Homo sapiens: one gene and its partner. The protein of the gene in region 1 interacts with the protein of each later gene in a pairwise test. Each region holds a gene or a part of one and is shown on either strand. Other genes may lie near its edges.

Region 1 (3,687 bases):
GGGAAAGCAGATTCTAGCCCCCTCAGCTGGGGAGGTTTCCCAGTGTCCTAAACCTTGGCCTCCTGCTTCTCTTTAGTGGCCCTGCTCCTGCTTAACACAGTAGTGCTTGTCACATGTTAGTCGCTGCCATGGATTTCTCAGGTTTTCAACATCATAACTACACTCCAATTCTCTGCACCCCTTTGGCAGGTGAGGCCAATAGAAAAATAACAGCACAGTTGAGTTTAAAAATGTAGTTTGTAGCAGGTGGACAGGTAAAGAGCTGGGTTAAATGACACCTCCACCTATCCTAGCTGTATGAGAATAAAAAAACTCCGAATCCTTCCTGAGAGGATTGAGCTGGCTAACCCTATGAAGTACATGGTGTCTAATGCCTGCCCCCAAGGTTTAATACAATATTTAAGACTTGCCTTTTGAAGTTCCCCACTGTCAACCTCCCCAGTTCTCCACCCATCTTCCCATGTGAGCTCTGCCTTAGCCACGCAATGGCCAGTCCTCCCTACAATGAGTCCATTTCCTTTATTCTCAATTTAAATTCAAAGTGGGGAAAAAGTGCACTTAAGAATGAATCATCCATTTTATTTTATTTTGTCATGTGCTCAACAGCATCTCTCTCTCTCTCCCCTCTCCCTGGCAGGTCACAGAGATAAATTAAAAATAAAATCTACAAGGAAAATAATTTATAAAAGCACTCCCAGGTTCACACCTTCTATCCCTACTGCTCAGTTAGGCACCCCCTAACTGGGAATCAGTGCTTCCCCCCACCCCCATTTCACTCCCACTTGTCTGGGGCAGACGGTACTCCAGAGCCGGGCAGGGGTGAGGGCAGCAGTGGCAAACAGTTAAAAATAAAGACATTGTAGTCCTGGAACCATCTGGCCACCTTGGCACTCCCATGTCTGCCTCCCCCAGGCAGCCCTCCAGGAGCCTGTGCGAAGCTGGGGCTGTGGAGAAGCTGCCTGTGGCTGAGAGCTTGTGTGTTTGGGGAGGTGCTCTCAGCCTGTCATATGCACTTCTCAATCTTCTAGAAAGAAACCCAAAAAAGAAAGCAGACGACGACCTCGGGACAGAGGAGAAAAATCCCAAGTGTTCACACAGTTACACGGAGTCTTTATGGCAAAGAGAACATTTAGCAGCTTTGAATATTGGGCATCTCCTTTTTACTCAACACAAGCATTCTAGACCCTATAAGTGAAACAGGGCACAAGCCCTAAAAAAATCAAAGCGCAAGAAATTCTAAGAGGACTAGTTCTTTTGTTGTTGCTGGGTTGTGTAATTTTTTGTGTTTTCCCAGTGATAAGCCCAGTTGTTGGTAGGCAGAGGCCCGAGGGAAGGGTGACTCCCCAGTGTTGTGCTGAATCCTGCCTGGAGGCTGCTACACTAGATTCTCCATCATTCCTCTGCCTCACAGCAGTCCCAGAAGAGGAAGGCTGCAGGCCCAGTTCCCGGAGCACTGCCATCACCCTACCCCAGCTTACAGAAGAGCTCAGGCAGTCTGTGAGGGGTGGGGAACACAAACACCGGACCAGGGGAGGACGGCATACACATGCAGGCTCTGATGGAGACAATGGGAGCCTCAGCTCAGGGGTGGCTGGAGCACGGAGGGAGATGGAGTGGCAAGGCAGTGAATGACATGCGTGATGTTGGGGCTGTTGCAACATGGGACCACGTGACCCTTTCCTGTTCACTCTACCCTTTGACTCTAAATCTCAAAGCCAGTGTTGGGGCCCAGTGGCTCCATTCGATTGAAACATGGCCAATGATATCCAAGAGCTCCCCTTCAGGGATGTCAAAATGCAAGGAGCAGAAAGAGTTAACACCGTCCCTCCCCACCCCCACCCTGTGTCTGTGTACCCCACCCCCCCCGGGGTGAAAATTGGGGTTTATCACACCAGTGATCTAGGCCCACCAGTCACTCCAACCTGCTGCCTGGAATCCTGGCCAGAGCCAACCTTAACCTTCCCTCTGATTTTCTTCCCGCTTTGATTTTTTTTTCGGGGGGGGGGGGGTTCCTTCCTTCCTTCCTTCTATCCCTCCTTCCTGAAATGAGACTTTCTGCCACCTTCCCTTCCTCTCACAGGTCCATTCCTTCCCCTCTGTCGGCCTTTGCTCCACATAGCTCCTCTACCTCCAGCAACTCCACCACCACCCCTGCCTCACAGGAAAGGGGTAGGGTGAGGACCCTGTCCGTCTAAATGGTCTGGCCACTTCCACTCCACCCGAGTGGAGCTGAGCCAGCCAGTGCCTGCCTCTTCCTGTACACTGACCCGCAGTCATCCCATCTGAGAAGATATATTGGATAAGAAGGCATTTAAGTCCCCGCTGTAGGTCCAGGTCCAGGTCCAGGTCCAGCCCTTCTCCAGTTTCGGTCTTGGTGGGCTTCAAACCCCCTTCTTCCCCAGGCTCACTTTCTCCGGTCCTTTGGCTTCCTCTCCTGCCGCCGGGCCTGCTGGTCGGCCATCGTGCGGGGGATGAGGAGGACACTGCCGTCCCCGGCGTACTGGAGCGCATACTGACTGGGCGAGTAGGGTCGTCCGTTCTCATCTCGCAGCCGCCCAAACACCTCCTGGTACAGGCTCTGGACCTTCTGCTTCATCTGTCGCAGGGAGCGCAGGAACTCCACTTTCTCCCGCAGCAGCCGGGCTTTGTCACGCTGCAGGTCCTCCACATCACGCTCCAGATTCAGGATGGTGTCCAGCTTGCGCTTGCGGCAGTTCTGCGCCGCCATCTTGTTCTTGCCCCGGCGCCGGATGTCTCGGATGAGGCTCAGCTGGGCTTCACTCAACTGGTATTTGGACAGCAGTTCATTGAACTCCTCCACAGGCAGGTTGATGATTTTGTCATTGGTGAAAGGGATCTTCATGGCTCGGGCTCGGTGCTCATCCCGGCTCATCTGCTTGTCCAGGAAGTCAGCCTGCTTCTCCTTGCTGCCTTTCTTGAGGGCACTGGGTGGTGGCAGGTCGGCTGAGTCCAGGGCACTGGGTGCCATGTTGTATGTGTGGTTGTGGCCCACGTGCTCCAGGTAGGGCAGGCATGAGAGCTGAGCTGGATCCTGGTAGCTCATGCGGCAGAACTTGGAATACTCAGGCTGGTAGCCCACAGCACCCTCGGCCTCTTCCAGATCCAGGGTCTCAGAGTCAGAGCTGTAGCCAACCGCACCTTCCTCAGAAAAGGAGGAAGAGGCAGAGGAAGAAGCAGAGGAAGAAGAGGAAGAGGAGGAGGAAGAAGAGGAAGAACTGCCTTCAGAGCTGCTTAGGGAAGAAGGGCTATGGCTCGAGTCTAAGGAAAGGCCTGAGTCAGAGTCAAATTCCTCCTCCAGCTGGGAGGCCTGCACAGGGTTAAAGCCTTCTTCAATGGCCAGGTCCATAAGGCTGATCTCATCCAACATAGCTTCATCTAACAGACCCCCCAAAGGGTCAGGCAGCTCTGGGCCTGCTGTGTCATTGGCTGTGCCATTGAGCTGGGGTGGAAAGAAGAGCCCTGTCAGGTTGGTGGAGCCGAAGGTGGAGTTGAGGCTGGTAGAATTGCTGGGGGCCAACGGGAGCAGCGTGGAGCTACTGGCCACAGGCAGGCTTTCCACCTCGGGGCTGAAGAGTAAGAAGTCCTGGCTGCAGCCCCCCAGGGACGCCTGATGCAGGCTGACATTCTGATTGATGGGAGTGTTGGGGGCAAGGCTGTAGTTGGTGC
Region 2 (3,500 bases), on another chromosome or scaffold:
ACACACACACACACACGCTCAAAAATAGAGACCTGGATAGAATCTGGGGACTGGAAGAGTCATCCAAGGTTAAAGCAGAGTTTGGGGTAACCTGGGGACTCCCTCTATGGGAATAAGATGCCCAGTGATGATTCAGACAGTTAGTTAAGAAGCATTTTAGGGAGCACTGGTTAAGTACTAGGTAGTATGCTAGGCACCAAAGATACCACACAACGGCTACCCTCATGGCATCTGCAGAAAAAACAGAAAAGAAAGGATGCTGCCTAGGGCCTGTGCAGGAGGAGGTCTCCTTGTGCTGGTGCTCTGGTCCTCAGGCAAAGCCCTCATTGGATTTCCTACTGATTTCAGGCTGCACAACCTATTGAAAACCTAACAGAATGTGTTTACACATACTTTTTAAAAGTATTTTATTTTTGAAATGATTGTAGGGCTTTCCTCAAATGTTGTTCTTTGTTCCATGACAGTGAGTGGAGATTTTAGATGCTTACAAATGTTTACATGAGGATTTCATCTCTTCTCCTGGACTCATGGCTGGAACATAATTATGAACTGTGCTTGTTAACCAAATAGAGATATTCCATGAGACAAGAAGGCTGATTCCTAATATGGAGGTGTCCTTGGGCCGGGGCCCACTTATCCTGGTATCCATCTCCTCCTCCCGACACAGAGGTGCCTTCATTAGTAGAGGAAAGAAAGAGGTCTTTGTGATGATGTAATTCCCAGACCACCCTACACAGACAATAAAACTGAATTTGAGAGAAGCTGGGTGAAATAAGAGCTCAGAAATCATAGAATACCAGTGCAGCAGGGACCTAAGAGGTTATTTAGTCTAATCTTTTAATGTTAGAAATGGGCAAATAACACCAAAAGGGGAAGAGATCTGTCTAAGATTACATGGCCAGTTAATGGTGGGCTATTTTCATCAAGGTAAATATGGGGAAATTCATTCCACAGAAATTCTAATAACTGTGTGTTTGATGATATTATGGTAGGCAAGAGGGCTGTCACCATAGTGTGTGACAAGCAGCTGCAATGCAACATGACCAGTGCTAGCACAGAGTATAGACAAGGCACTGTGGGATCACAGAGGAGGAAGCATCTCACTCTTCCTGTGGGCACTGTGGAAGGCTTCATGCAGAAGAGGACTTCTGAGTTGGGTCTTTATGAATGAACAGAAGTTGGTTGTATAGGAAACGGAAAAGGTATTTCCAGAATATGGAACAGCATGTAAAGGCATAAACATGTGAAAGAAAATGACATGTTTGGGGGATTAAGAGTGGTTTCCTATGGTAAAAATGGAGATTTATTGGAAGGGAAATAGAGGAGACAGCAAAAAGGTAAGGGAAGGAGTAGCTGTGAAGGCCTTGGATGGCATGTTAAGAAGTTTGTCCTGGAGAGAAGTTATCTTTGTGCTTTAAAAAACAATGTAGTGGCAAAAGGATGAAGAATGGGCTGAACAAAAATGGACCCATGATAGGAAGCCTAGCTGGGTGGATAACACAGTATTTCAGGTGGAAAATAAGAGTAAAAATTTTGAAAATGAACGAACAATCCAGAGCACTTGTGAAGGCTGAATTAAAGCAGTGATATTTAGATATTTAGTGATGGTAGACTCAGCAGGATTTCATAAAAGATGATTAGACATGGGGAATAAAATGGAGGATGGGGCAGCAAACTACTGCCCTTGGGTCATGTGCAGGCTGCCATCTATTTTGTACAGCCCAAGTGCTAAGAATGGTTTTTACATTCTCATGTACACGTACATGCTTCCTTCAATAGCTGAGAAGAAACAAAAGAAGCATCTTTTGTAACACATGAAAATAATGGGAAATTCAAATTTCAGTGACCATAACTAAAATTATATGGGAACATAGCCACACTTGTTAATTGACCTATTGTCTCTGGCAGCAAAGGCAGAGCTGAATAGTGCAAACCAGGTCATAGGTCTCATAAAGCCTTAGATAGTTACTATTTGGCCCTTTCAGAAAAAGTTGCTGACCTCCTCCAGGATTCTCCAACTCAGTTAAAATCAGTTCATCTTTTTAGTTGCCCAGACCAAAACCTTTGGGGTCATCTTAATTCTACTCTTAGCTGCCAACCGATCTTTCATCAAGATCTGCTGTATTTTAAAAATATATCCAGAATTTGACCCTCACTCCTTCCCTTGCTACCACTCTGTTCCTCAGCACTACCATCTCTCAGCTGGGTCATTCTGGTAGCCTTTATTTATTTATTATTTATTGAGACAGGGTCTTGCTCTGTCACACAGACTGGAGTGCAGTGGTGTGATCATGGCTCACTGCAGTCCCAAACTCCTGGGCTAAAGCGTTCCTTCCATGTCAGCCTCCTGAGTAGCTGGGGCTACAGGTGTGCACCACCACCCATGGCTAATTTTTTTGTAGAGATGGGGTTTCGCCATGTTGCCCAGGCTGGTCTTGAACTCCTGAGCTCAAGCAAACCACCCACTTCGCCTCCCAAAGTGCTGGGATTACAGGCGTGAGCCACCATGCCCAGCCTCATTCTAGAAACCTTTTGCCTCATCTCCCTGCTTCATCTCTGCCTGCTTCAGTCACTTAACACCATCTGAGTGATGGTGTTTTAGCACCATCAGTTAAAACAGAAGTGAGATCACGCCATTCCTCTGCACAAAGTCTTCCCGAGCCTTCCCATCTAACTCTGAGTAAAGGCCCAAGTTTTACAATGGCTTCCAGGGCCCTACAAAACCTGCCTCTGCCCTTCCTCTTGTTACACCCGGGACCAACCCCCGTTCCACAATCATGCTCACTCTCTTCTCCAGTCACATCAACCTCCTTCTTGGTCCTCAATAATGTACCAGGTCCACACCTGCCCCAAGGTCTTTGCATCTGTCATTCCTTCCACCTGTAATGTTATTTTCCAAGATATACATATGGTTCTCTTCCTCACTTCCTTCAGATTGGGACTCAAATCTACCCTTCTTAGTGAGGCCTTCTCTAGCCATCCTACTTAATACTGACAACCATCCTCAGACCACAACCCTCTATTTCTCTTTTTCTTGCTTTATTCTGCTCTCTAGCACTTACTACCACTCAAACAAAATACAAACATTACCAATTTATCTTGTTTATTACCTGTCTCCCCTGTTAGAATGTAAGCTCCAGGAAGGCAAGAGTTTTTGTTTTGTTTTCCTTTCTAGAACCTAGTACAGTGCATGGTACGTGTTAGGCACTCAATAAATAGTTGCTGAAAGAATGGAAATAATGGATCAGAAAGTGACTGGGAGATAAGAAAAGACAAGCAGGTAGAGATAACTCTTTCAAGGCATCTGGTGAGTAGCTAAAGAGGAAACCAGTATCAGGAGACTTTCTCCAAATAGGAAAGACTCAAGCATATTTACAGAACGTCAGGGCGACAGAGTGGCAAAAAAAGATGGGATATGAGAAATAGCATATCTGGCTATGCCAAGTCTGGGAGGAAGCTGAAAGAAATGGCCTTATGAGCAAGGAGAGAAGGGACCTCCT

Evidence for each region. Proteins that work in one complex are often made in the same cells at the same time.
Region 2: the proteins of NFE2L1 (region 1) and PARVA interact in a two-hybrid assay, tested with the Homo sapiens proteins (one large-scale study listed by BioGRID and IntAct).

Annotation. Positions count from the first base shown.
Region 1 is NC_000017.11:48,058,359-48,062,045, reverse strand, and holds the end of NFE2L1 (endoplasmic reticulum membrane sensor NFE2L1), read right to left. Parts: coding exon 2,405-3,687; 3' UTR 501-2,404; downstream 1-500.
Region 2 is NC_000011.10:12,384,071-12,387,570, reverse strand, and holds part of PARVA (alpha-parvin), read right to left. Parts: intron 1-3,500. UniProt on the Homo sapiens protein: Plays a role in sarcomere organization and in smooth muscle cell contraction. Required for normal development of the embryonic cardiovascular system, and for normal septation of the heart outflow tract.